3 separate regions of the Homo sapiens genome follow, and regions 2 and 3 are each linked to region 1. The links come from fine-mapping of genetic effects on gene expression. A gene starts in region 1. Each other region holds a variant in brackets. All regions are shown on one strand. Distances are from middle to middle.

The links. PIP is the estimated chance that this variant, and not a neighbour inherited with it, causes the effect.
Region 2: its variant is the best candidate, but not a certain one, in a credible set for the expression of CFAP44 in nasal epithelium (TOPMed, PIP 0.81).
Region 3: its variant is the best candidate, but not a certain one, in a credible set for the expression of CFAP44 in whole blood (INTERVAL, PIP 0.75).

The regions. Positions count from the first base shown.
Region 1 is chr3:113,439,687-113,443,934 of GRCh38, forward strand. CFAP44 (cilia and flagella associated protein 44) reads right to left here and starts at 1,807. Exons shown (of 35, transcript NM_001164496.2): 1 at 1,767-1,807. SPICE1 (spindle and centriole associated protein 1) reads right to left here. Exons shown (of 18, transcript NM_144718.4): 18 at 3,032-4,248. SPICE1-CFAP44 (SPICE1-CFAP44 readthrough (NMD candidate)) reads right to left here. Exons shown (of 52, transcript NR_183050.1): 20 at 1,767-1,968.
Region 2 is chr3:113,302,114-113,306,361 of GRCh38, forward strand. It overlaps CFAP44 (cilia and flagella associated protein 44), which reads right to left. Exons shown (of 35, transcript NM_001164496.2): 30 at 4,088-4,218; 31 at 2,923-3,039; 32 at 1,803-2,004. It overlaps SPICE1-CFAP44 (SPICE1-CFAP44 readthrough (NMD candidate)), which reads right to left. Exons shown (of 52, transcript NR_183050.1): 46 at 4,088-4,218; 47 at 2,923-3,039; 48 at 1,803-2,004. Among named protein-coding and RNA genes, the nearest start is that of BOC, 93 kb to the left of the region's middle. The variant G/A (reference allele first, on the strand shown) is at 2,036.
Region 3 is chr3:113,372,494-113,376,741 of GRCh38, forward strand. CFAP44 (cilia and flagella associated protein 44) reads right to left here. Exons shown (of 35, transcript NM_001164496.2): 18 at 918-1,063. All of the region lies in intron 35 of SPICE1-CFAP44 (SPICE1-CFAP44 readthrough (NMD candidate)), which reads right to left. Among named protein-coding and RNA genes, the nearest start is that of CFAP44-AS1, 29 kb to the right of the region's middle. The variant TTTTATTTA/T (reference allele first, on the strand shown) is at 1,870.

The sequences.
Region 1 (4,248 bases):
AAAAAGGGAAAATAATAGTACACATTGATGCAGAGGAGTGTGTTGCTAGAAGGTTGGCTAGACGCCAGACAGAGTGCTGTCTAAGGTGACATTACTCTGATTCATTCACCAGAGTCCAGGTTCTGGTCCTCATGCTCACAAGCTCACTCAATCCCAGCAGTGTGCCAGAGGTGGTTATTTAAGATTCACAGTGACTGATGTATAAAACAGACTCTCGGTTTTTACTTTGCAATGTGAAATACAGCTGTGGAGAAAAAAAGTAATAGCTTGTCTTTTTTAATGTTTACTATGTGTCAAGTACAGTTCTAAGAAATTCTACACATATTATCGTACAATTCTCAAAACGACCCTATGAGGTAGGTACCATTATTATTTTATTTATGTATTTATGTATTGAGATGGAGTCTGGCTCTGTCACCCAGGCTGGAGTGCAGTGCTGCGATCTCAGCTCACCGCAAACTCCACCTCCCTGGTTCAAGCGATTCTCGTGCCTCAGCCTCCCGAGTAGCTGCGATTACAGGCGCACACCACCTCGCCCGGCTAATTTTTGTATTTTTAGTAGACGGGTTTCCCCATGTTGGCCAGACTTGTCTCGAACTCCTGACCTCAGGTGATCTACCCACCTCCGCCTCCCAAAGTGCTGGGATCACAGGCGTCAGCCACCGCGCACAGCCTATTATTATTATTTTTGAGACAAAGTCTTGCTATCCATTATTATTACTGTCATTATTTTACAGATGAGAAAGCAGCGTATTTACTCTGAATCCGTTCCTCTCACCCAATTCATGTAGATGATTTCCAAGTCCTGTTACTTGGTGTCCAGTGATTAAGCCTTTTGAATTCCTCCCCTCCCTTCATTCCTACTGTCCCTGCTGTCCCTCTGTAGTTCCAGTCCTCACTGTGTCTCACCTCTACCATTACTGTACCGTCATACTTTGTCTTCCCTTCTGTAACCCATTTTCTACACTATCGCTTGTATTTCTAAAACACAGCTTTTAATGTGTCACTCTTGCTTAAAACCTCTAATGGCTCATCACTGCTATCAAATAAGAGCTCAGATTCCTCGGTCTGGTGTAAAGGTCCCTTGTCAGAGGGTCTGTAGCTTATTGCAGCCCAGCTACAGTCACCCTCTCTCTCTCCCTAGCCTCCTTAGCCTTCTCCTCTCAAAGATTTTCATCAGTACGCACCCTTAGCAACTCATGATAGACTGGACACACTGAGCAGCACACATGTATGCGACTGTCTTTACCTATTATCCGACAAATATTTATGTGCACCTACTATGTGTCATGCATGTGCTAAGCACTTTACTTGTATTATCCTGTTTAATAATAACTCCATGAGGTCACATTATCACCTTTCTTTCTGGAGATGAGGAAGCCGAAGTGCAGAGGGCCCAGCGTGCCAAGCGTCGCACCCAGCTGAGCGCAGGGCAGGTGTCTCACTGGAGCGGGGAGCCCCAGCACCTTCCCAGCTGACTCGCTGCTGCTCTGACTTGGCCGGGTCTAAGCTGTGCTCCTGCTGCCTGGCTGGCTTCCGCCCGGTCAGACTGACAGGGTCTTGCAGGCAGGAACCGTGCACACAGTGTCTAGCTCCGAGCCTGAGAATACTCGTGGCTTCAAAAGTTTGCTGAGCTACCGCAGGGAGGACGAAGGCTATAACACTGGTCCAGCCTGAGAGAAGCCCAAGTGGGGTTCACTGCCCTCTGAGCCACAGATTTAAGGGGGAGGGTGTGGAAACTGCCGGCTGCTGAGGTCCAAACTCACCGAAGGTACTGACCGCCGCGGCTCCTCTCTTCACAGCGTCTGCCGGAGGCCTCCGTTTACTCCGGTTACCGAGACAACGCCACCCCTCTTCCAGGGAGGCGGAACCAGGGCGGGCCGTGGGGCGCATGCGCGGCCGGCGTCCAGCTCTCCGGGAACCCGGTACCTATCCGCCCTTTGGTCGGGCCTTCTCCGCCTCATGACACTGGTTCAAAGCCAAACAGAAAAGCCCGACGAGTTTATTATCCCCTAAAGGACGTCATGTAGATAATTAAATGACATGAATACCGTCGAAGATACCTGCCTGATATTCCAAAATGGCCCAACGGAGCCCTGATCGCGGCGTTCCTATGTTGAGGTTTTAACTTCGATTTTAAGAGGGGTCCTGGGAGATAGTAGGCAGCTTGCCGGCAACATCAACAACAAAGATACATCGTGGGATTTTTGTTATTTTTAAAACTATATTATCTCTGTTGGCTTTTAAGAGTAAATCAGGTTTTATGTTGTGGGTTTCTTGGTCGCAGCGCTCTGGGCACAAAAGTATAGGCCTCCCTTGACAGATTTCTAGGTTTAGCAGTTTGTTCAACCTCTCTGTAGTACTGTGGTCATATTGTTTTTTAAAGTACCTAGCCTAACGTTATTAGTTACCAAATACTTGTTTTAAAATGGTCATTCCAATATGTGACAAAGGACTTTGTATACAGAATGTATAAAGAACTCTTATAATTCAATAAGAAAAAACCACCCAATTTCTTAAATGGGCAAAGGATTTGAATACTTCACCAAATCAGATATATGTATGGCCAATAAGCACATGGATAGATGCTTAAAAGTAGTCATAAGGGAAATAGAAACCACAATACACATAACTCCACATCCACGTGAAGGGGTAAAACTTCAAAGATTGCTAACACCAAATGCAGAAGGATATGGAGCAACTGGAACTCGCATACACTGCTGTTGGGAATGTAAAATGGCATAACCACTTTGGAAAACTATTTGAGAGGTTTCTTCAAAAGTTAAACATACACAAAGTCATTCCACATCCAAGATAGTCTAGAGACTTGGGCAAAGTGGTTGCCTAGGACTTAGTGAGATGCACTGGAAAGAGACACAAGGAATCTTAGAAATGATAGAAATGCTGTGTCTTCATTGTGGTGGTAATTTCATGGGTATATACAACTGCCAAAAGCCAATAAACTGTTCTCTTTAAATGGATGTCATTTATTGTATATAAATTATTTGTCAATAAAATTGGCAAGAAAAAATTGCTATAATACAATTTGTGTTTATTAGTTTCCACAATGTTACACAAATACCATGCATTTATTTGCAATACTGAAATGTCCTCTTTAATCAAGATTTTCCAGGGCTTAAAAAAATGATTATCCTTGCTATTACTTATTAAATGGTATATCTAGGTGCCAGAAAAGATAGAAAACATAGGGTAAACTTATTTTTAAATAGCATGTTATTTATATTTTCAAATCATATGCCCAGCATGTTTTCTTTCAATCTCTAGACATCTTTTCAGGTGAAATACCTCTAAATTTCAAGCACTGTGTGCAATTGTTAATCTGAGAAAGATACAATAAATTCACTATACAATGTCTTAAAAATTGGAAACATGGGGGAAATAGTGTATTTATTTATTTATATACCAAAAAAAATTGGCAGTGATCATTACTGAGTGTTGTGAGCCAAGCTCTGATCTCAGCCCATTTACATACACTTGCCTCACTTAATCCTCACAAGCCTCTAGGGAAGACATTATGTCTGACTTTCAAATGGGAAAGATTAGATTAATTTGTCCAAAGTACACAGCTCAAGTGGCAGAAATGGCATTTGAGGCAAGATTTCTGGTTTCAGTACTTGCATCCTTAGCTACTGTACTGTATTAGTTCCCGTAAATTAGGAGAAATCCAGTAACTGCAAGAAAGAGCTTCAAGTCTTGGCTTTACCTCTTACAAGCACTCTGTCATTAGACAACTTTCTTCACCTCTAGGGCTCAGCATCCTCATCTGTAAAGGTGCTGGGAGAGGAGGAAGCATTTACATACCTCTAACTGATAGGTCTACTATGAGATTCAAATGAGATAATGGTGATACCACAGCTTATAGTACGGTGTCTGCCACAGTAATGGCTCAATAAGGAACAGCTATTCTTATTATTATGCTGCTTCCATACTACACACACTGTAAAACAGGTTTACTCTCCAACAAGAGGCAGCACAGCATAGGCTTTGGAGAAAGACTGCCTATGTTCCCATTCTAATGCCACCACTCCCTAGTTGTGTGACCTTGAGAAAATACCTCCTTGTACCTCAGTTTCCTCATCTGCAAAATGAGGATAATAGTACCTATCCCATAAGGTGTCATGAAGCACATAAAGTGGCTACAATATTGCCTAGTATGTAGTTAACAGTTAATTATTAAATTCTGCTAACCAAAATAATTTTGTTTACAGCATAAGAATGATTATATGA
Region 2 (4,248 bases), 140 kb before region 1:
TAAGGCTGAATAGTATTTCATTGTGTACATATACCACATTTTCTTTAGCCACTCATCTGTTTATGGACACTTAGGTTGATTCCGTGTCTTGGCAATTGTGAATAATACTGCAGTGAACATAGGACTGCAGATGTCTCTTCTGCATACTGATTACTAATTTCATTTCCCAGTAGTGGAATGGTTGGACCAAAAAATATCTTTATGACCTCAAAATAGGAATGGATTTCTTAAGCAAGACACACACACATACACATAGTGCACAAACCATAAATAAGTAGATTGATTAAAAAAATTACTATATTAAGATTTAAAACATCTGTATCCAAAGATACACTAGACAAAGTAAAAAAAAAAAAAAAAAAAAAAAGATAGCCAGGCACTGTGGCTCTCGCCTGTAATCCCAGCACTTTGGGAGGCCAAGGCAGGCAGATCACCTGGGAGTTTGAGACCAGCCTGGCCACCATGGAGAAACCCCATCTCTACTAAAAAACACAAAAATGAGCCGGGCGTGGTGGCAGGCGCCTGTAATCCTAGCTACTCGGGAGGCTGAGGCAGGAGAATTGCTTGAGCCCAGGAGGCAGAGGTTGCAGTGAGCCAAGATCACGCCACCACGATAGAGGTGAGACTCCAGCCTGGGCGATAGAGTGAGACTCCATCTCAAAAAAAAAAAAAAAAAAAGAAAAAGAAAAGAAAAAAGACAAGTTACAAACTAGAAGAGATTTGCAGTGCATTCAATGGACAAAAAGGATATATTAAGAACTCCCTAAAATCAATTTAAAAGCAAAAAATAGAAATCAAAAATGGACAAAGGATAGGACAGGCAAGTTACAGAAAATAAAATAAATAAATGGCAAATATATGTATGTAAAGATATTTAACTTCACCAGCAATCAAAAAATGTGAATAAAAACCACAATGAAATGTAATTTAACATCTCACAGGCTGGCAAAAATATTAAAGTCTGATAATATCAACTGTTGATGACAATATGGAGCCTGGGCAATTCTCACACATTGCTAGGGGAGGAGAAATTTGTTCAACCACTTTGGGGGCAACCTGGCAATATCCAGGAGAGCTGAAAATGTACATATCCCTCTGTAACCCAGAGACCCAGTACTAGGATTCACCTTCTCACACATGTGCACAGGGAGATGTGTACAAGAAGGTTTCCTGTAACATTGTCTATAATAATGAAAAATAATAAATATCCTAAATATCCATCAATAGGAGGCTAAATAAAATATTTAATATTCATAAATGGAATTTTGTAGCAGTAAAGTGAATAAACTATCTGTAGTTTATGGATAACTTAAAAATTGGTTTAATAAAGTGAACCACAAAATGATATAAATATCATTTTGCACAGTTAAAAATATGCAAGGTAGGTCTCCATATTGTGTGTGGACACATCCATATGTATGTGTGCATACCTGGTGGTGAACCCCGAGGAAGGAGCCACAGAATTGCATTAGAAAGAGATGGGGCTTCGATTGTATCTCAACGTTTTCTTTCTTAACCTGGGTAGTCTTGCACTTGGGTTATTATTGTATTATTCTATATTTTAATCATACACAAAGAGAAGATGATTCTATGACAAAAGATTTCTCCCTTTAAAACAGGAAAGCGAGCTTTTCATGGCATCAGGAGAAACGGTGAGTAGGAAGATGTTGTGGTGTTCTTGTTTCCCTTCTCAGTGGTTCTGAGTCTGCAATTACTATTTTCACAGTTGGAGACAGTCACCTGGATAATTCCCTTTCTTACCAATAAACCTTACTAGCAAGGCTGTGGGCTTAGATACTCACTGTGTATGGTTTTTGTCATTTCTCTCTTTTCTCGGATGAGCTGTTTACGTCTCTCTCTCCATTCTTTGTTAAGTTTTTGCTGCTTGGAATTTTCCTCCTGGAGCTCATGGATTCGTTCTTGCAGCCGTCTCAAGGCATGGTTAGAGAAGACCAAAGTACCAGAAAGATCGCTAGGTATTTCTCCAAATACCACATACTCTATCTACAAGCATAAAACAAATCAAAAGAAAATA[G/A]ACAAAAACACAGATTTTGTATGGCAACAGAAAGCATAAGAGGTGCACTTCCTTCTTTGCCCCTTGTTTAGCTCCTTGCCTTTGGGCTTCTACGTCTTCCTTACTGAGTAACAGTAGCCAGGCAAACACAGAAAGATGCTGTCAGACAGAAAGCCACATCACGTCTCTGTGGGGATAGCAAATCCTCCCACACAGATCATGCCTATTATCTACTGCATAATGATGTGACAAACATTTCAGGGCTGGCATACTAGGCAAACCGCTCCATTTAGCTCATCCAGTTTGGGTCAGGTTACACAAAACATATATAAGGCTGATCTTGTTGTTGTTGTTTTCCTAAAATACAGCTTTTTCTCTTAACCTGACAAAGGAGAATACAATAAGCCTTTTCTCTTAATGATATGTATTCCTGCAATTTAATATAAGTTGCAATTCAAATAGAAATGAACAAGAAAAGTAAAAAAGAGAAAATATTTTCCTTTTGTCCTGACCTCCCTCACCAATGAGTAGAGACTAAGCAAAGGTCATTTTAGCATGATTAGTCCATGTATAGATAAAGATGGTGTGAAAAGTGGCATGGGTATAAGAGCCAAGATTTCACCCTCTGAGCCATTGCATTCTTAAATCATAGGCTCCTCATTTCTCTAGACTTGAAATGACTGATTTCCAAAGTGCTAATGGGCCACAGGGAAATATCCATGTTTTGATGTTACTCTTTTATAACAATCTGACAGTGGATAAGACAAGTGTAGGTGTCATTCTACAGGTGGAATTCTCAACAAAGAACCACGATTCTCCCCATTAGTGAACTATGAATCTTTCTCTGAAAAGCTTGGGTGTGATGACTCTTCTCGGACAGGATGGAGCAGCCTCCCCAGACGCATCACCTGGTGGAGCTTGAGCGGAATCACAACTAGCAGTTCATTCAGCCGCTGCTGCTTCTCTCGCTGATAAGCCTCCAGGGCCTCCTCTGCTGCATTCAGATTAGTTGCCACAATTTTCACCTGTAGAAAGCCCCGTGTTGTGAAATGGTGACAAGACTCAATAAACATACATCTAAAGATGGTGAATGAAGGCATCTTGGGAGGAAGTAAAGCATGAGCAGAATCTGCTTTGTTGGGCTGTGATTAAGTGCATGATCCCAGTTTGCAACTCAGGAATGCATATTATTTTCTTTCTGCCAAGTTATGATCCACATCACTCTTCAGTCATTTCTATGACTCCAGAGTTATAAAGTTTTGTGAATAAGAGCCCAGAAGACATGTCCTCATCTCCCTTTTATTTTCTGCATGAAAAGCAGCCCATCAGCATGGAATGTCTTTGACAGAATGGTGGGAGTCTTTTTTGGTCATGACTTCAACAAATTAAAGAAAGTTTCAGTGCTTTAAAGCAATGAAACTGCTAACTATAGTATTTCTAAAGCACATTCTCCATGTCCTAGAAAACCTGAAAGTTTTCCAAATCATTTCCTGTTTGCAAGAGGAGAAATAATACATCAAAAATATTTCTGAACATGAATGAAGTTAAGTGATGTTGCTCTAGACAAGAGTACCTAAGAGGGAAAGTGAGCAGATTAAGGCAGAAATTGGTGGTCTCCAACATGGGATGCATGCACCCCAGATGATCAACAAAATCATCTATTGGGGTATAAATTGAAAATGTCAGAGTTTCTATTTCTATTTATTTTTATCTCATTCTATTTAATTTCTGTTTTTGTGGATGTTTCCTATTGTACAAGATACATAATAGTTCATAAATACAATTTATAAATACATATACATTTATTGTATGGGGAGGGGCTCCATTTTCATTTTTTTTACTTATACAGTCATCAGAAAAGTCTGGAGACCAATGACTGACATAAAGTAAGTCCAATGATCAAAAAAGCAATGTCCCCCACCACAATTTAGGGAGAAAAAAACCTGCCCTTAACATTTGAAATGTTTCTTTTCTGAGAAGTCCTAATATTGTCATTGCTATAAAAAGGCAATATTATAGCTAGGAGGATGTGTAGCATTTTGAGAGGATAAATAAGTAAACAGATCACCATACTTTTTTTGACAATGTATCATATTCCTTTTTGAGGTTATCAACAATTTTCTTTTCTTCAACTAAAGCCTCCTCAATGTCCAGCCTTTTCTCTCGAAGGTGAAGGGCCAGCTCAAAAAGAGCCACATCACAATCTGCCAAGAGAATTAAAATAAAAACCAGCC
Region 3 (4,248 bases), 67 kb before region 1:
CCACATATTCTCACTCATAGGTGGGAATTGAACAATGAGAACACATGGACACAGGGTAGGGAACATCACACACCAGGGCCTGTTGGGGAGTGGGGGGCAGAGGGAGGGATAGCATTAGGAGAAATACCTAATTTAAATGATGAGTTGATAGGTGCAGCAAGCCAACATGGCATATGTATACCTACGTAACAAATGTGCACGTTGTGCACATGTACCCTAGAACTTAAAGTATAATAATAAAAAAAAAGAAGAAGAGGACATTAGGATACAGACAGAAGCATAAGGGATGACATGCACCCAGAGAAAAGATCATGCAAGAAGGCAAATATCTATAAGTTAAGGAGACAGGCCTCAGGAGAAACCAACCTGCTGACACCTTGATCTTGGAACTCTAGCCTCCAGAACTGTGAGAAAAAAAATTCTGCTGTATAAGCCACCTAGTCTGTGGTGTTTTATTGTGGCAGCCCTAGCAAACTAATACAAAAGAATAGAGAAAAAAGGCCAATTTGAAATTTGAAGCTATTATATTGGGTCGTCAGAAGAATAACTGGCATATTTGCCTAGTTCTCAATTATTAAAGGGCTAATGATTCATTTGTGATTTCTCCAGAATAACTGTAACCCTGAACCTTCATTTCTGACTATGTAAGTAGCATCCTCCTAGGTAGCAGAATGTAAATCCATACAATTCAATTGTGCGATAAACAAAAATACTGACAGAATATTTGGTGGGGGTATTTAAATATAATTTCAGTATTAGCTTTGATTTTATTTATTCATTTGATTTATTTAACCAAATATTTTTTGAGTACCCCTTCATTTGGATGGATCTTTAAAAATTGACAATATCCATGATGAACAAAAGCATAGACACTAACAGGATATGGTTTTTTTAAAGCTTTTTGAAATACTGCTCACTTGAAAGTGATAGTTTGGATGGGATTGTCCTCTGTATCCGCAAGATAACGGACATCAATAGGTTCATCTTTTTGTTCTTTGAAATCACTGCTTTCATCACAAGGGGGGAACTCACAGTGATATAGAAAACCAGAATCATAGCCACCCTAGAAAAGAGATAAGTAACATAGAAGGTGGTACTTGAATATAACACACATAAATGCATGAGAATTTTTTGATTATTTCAAATTTGAAAACATAAAATAGATGTTTTCAAACATCTACTTCTACATAATTTCTATGATTATAGATTTATTATTTCTATAAAGCATCTCCTTTATCCATTTATACACAACTATATAATTATAATAAAAACCTCATGATGATTTGTTTTCATTTAAAAGCCAATACAAGAGAGATATCACCTCTGACTCCCTACCTACAGAATTTCATTTTATTTCTTCAAGCATTATTCTGAATAAGCAGGAACAAATATTAGGGTTTTGCAGTTCCTCGTTTTTACAGCTAGTTTGCAGTTTAAGGTAACTGTAAACACTGTTAATTTTCCAGAAAGGGCTATTTCAGAAAAATTTATCCATGTAGTGAGAAGATGAATGATCAACTGGAAGAGCTATATTGCTCCAACTCTAATTTCCTTATTACTGAGATTCCTTATTATAGGAAACAAATTAAGGGTCAGAACAACTTTATGAACAATAAAAGAATAAATAAGAAAGAGAATGTAACATCATGATCACCTCTGAAAATCAAATTACTAAGTTTTCACTTTTGACAACAGCAGACTAGATTGTTTCAGCCAAACTCTCCCACTGAGAACAACCAGAACAAATTTTGTAAATGTGTTTGAAGGCATTGGCAAGCTACCAAAATAGCAAGATCCAAAAAAGAGGGAAAGCCAAAAGTGAGCCTGGCATTTGGCACTGCTTTACTCCCTGGAGCAACTGTCAATTTC[TTTTATTTA/T]TTTATTTATTTATTTATTTATTTATTTATTATTATACTTTAAGTTCCAGGGTACATGTGCACACGTGCAGGTTTGTTACATATATGTGGCAGCTGAGAGGCTAAGAAGCTGGACAAAGCTATCTGCAGTCTCATAGACTTATGGAGAAAGAAATAATCATTTCCAGGGTTCAAGCAGGGTCTCAAAGAGATATTTGAACACCCACCTCATTCATAGCAGCATTATTCACAATAGCCAAAAGGTGGGAACAATCCAAGTGTCTATTTTTGTGTGTTTGTTTTGAGATGGGGTCTTACTCTGTCACCCAGGCTGGAATGCAGTGGTGCCATCTCGGCTCACTGCAACTTCCACCTCCCAAGTTCAAGCAATTCTCCTGCCTCGGCCTCCCGGGTAGCTAGGATTGCAGGTTTGAGCCACTCCGTCCACCTAATTTTTTCTATTTTTAGTAGAGATGCGGTTTTGCCATGTTGGCCAGGCTGGTCTGGAACTCCTGGCCTCAAGTGATCCACCCGCCTTGACCTCCTAAAGTGCTAGGATTACAGGCGTGAGCCACCGTGCCTGGCCCCAAATGTCTATTTATGACTGAGTATATAAGCAAAATACGGTACATACTTAAAGTGGAGTATTATTTGGCCTTGAAAGGAAATTCTGACATATGCTGCATCACGGATGAAACTTGGGGAAATTATCCCAAGTGAAACAAGCCAGTCATAAAGAGACAGATACTATATAATTTCACTTATTTGAGATACTTAGAGTAGTCAAAATCATAAGAAAGAAAGTATGGTTGCCAGGGGCTGAGAGAAGGGAAGAATCAGGAGTTATCATTTGATGAGTATGGGAGTTTCAGTGTTACAGGATGAGGAGGACGGTAGAACAGATGTTGGTGATGACGTCACAACATTGTGAATACGTTTACTACTACTGAGCTGTACACTTAAAAATGGTTAAGATGGTCAATTTTATGTTATATGTCTTTTACTTCAATAAAAAGCAATTGGAAAAACAAACTTTAAAATAAAAGTTACGAAGCTGGAACAGAGATCAGAAAAAATAGGCTAAAGCATGGAGAAAGACAAAAAGGATGGAAAATCTTCTTGAATGATGTAAGATACATACGGAACATGAGAAGGATGTAATACACATAAAGTTGGGGTCCCAGAACAAGAGAGTGAAAAGATAGGCCAGAAGCAACACTGTGGTAGATAATGGCTGAGAATTTTCTAAAACTGAAGAGATATGTTGAAATTTAGAGTGCTACGAACTGCAAACAAAATAAAAATGAAGAAACTAACACCTTTTAACCACGCGTGTTGGCACACACCTGTAATCTCAGCTACTCGGGAAGCTAAGGCAGGAGAATCACTTGAGCCTGGGAAGTAGAGGCTGTAGTGAGCTGAGACGGCACCATTGCACTCCAGCCTGGGCAACAGAGTGAGTGAGACTCTGTCTCAAAAATAAAAATAAATAAATAAATAAAATCACCTCTAAAAGAATAGTAAAAGAATGTATAACTAATAATCTAGTAGAGGAAGAAAACTGTGGAAAAAATTACCTAATCACTCAATAGAAGGTAAAAAAAAGGGAAAGAAAATAAATTTAGAATGAGTGCGACAAATAGAAATAATTAGTAAGATAGTAGATTTAAACTAAAATATATTAGTAATTACATTAAATATAAATGAACATAGTACTTTTTTAAAAGACAAATATAATCCTATAGGATTCTTTTAAGCCTAACCATATACTGTTTACAAGAGACCTACTTTCGATATAAGGGTATCAAATAGTAAAGGAAAGAGAAGAATCCTTAATAACGTCGAGGTTTTGGCATAGTAACTAAGTGGATGATTGTCTCATTTACTGAGATGGAGATGGAGCAGGTTTGTATGGGACATGTATGGTTTAAAAGTAATGTCTTGGACAGGTTAATTTTGAGGTGCCAAGGAGCATTGTCAAGTTGGATATACAAGTCTAAGTGGAGGGGAGAGGTCAGGACTAGAAATAAATATTTGAGATTCACTGGAAGATAAGTGATATTTAAAGCCATGAGACTGTGTAGTTACCTTAGCAAGAAAGAGGGGGCCCAAGGCCGCACTCTGGAGTATTTCAAACTTCAAAGCTTGTTCTGCACATGAGAAGCCAGCAAAAGAGGCTGAAATGGAATGGTCAGAAGAGTGTAATGTCTTAGAAGCCAAGAGAAGAAAGCATTTGAGAAGTATGAGGGGTCAACTCTGTTAAATGTTCCGAAAAGTCAAATGGACAGAGAATTGACCTCTGAGCTTATCATCATTAGTGAAGTGATGGAGATATCCCAACTGGAATGGGTTGAAGATCAAATAGGAGGTGAATAAGTTAAGCCAATGATTA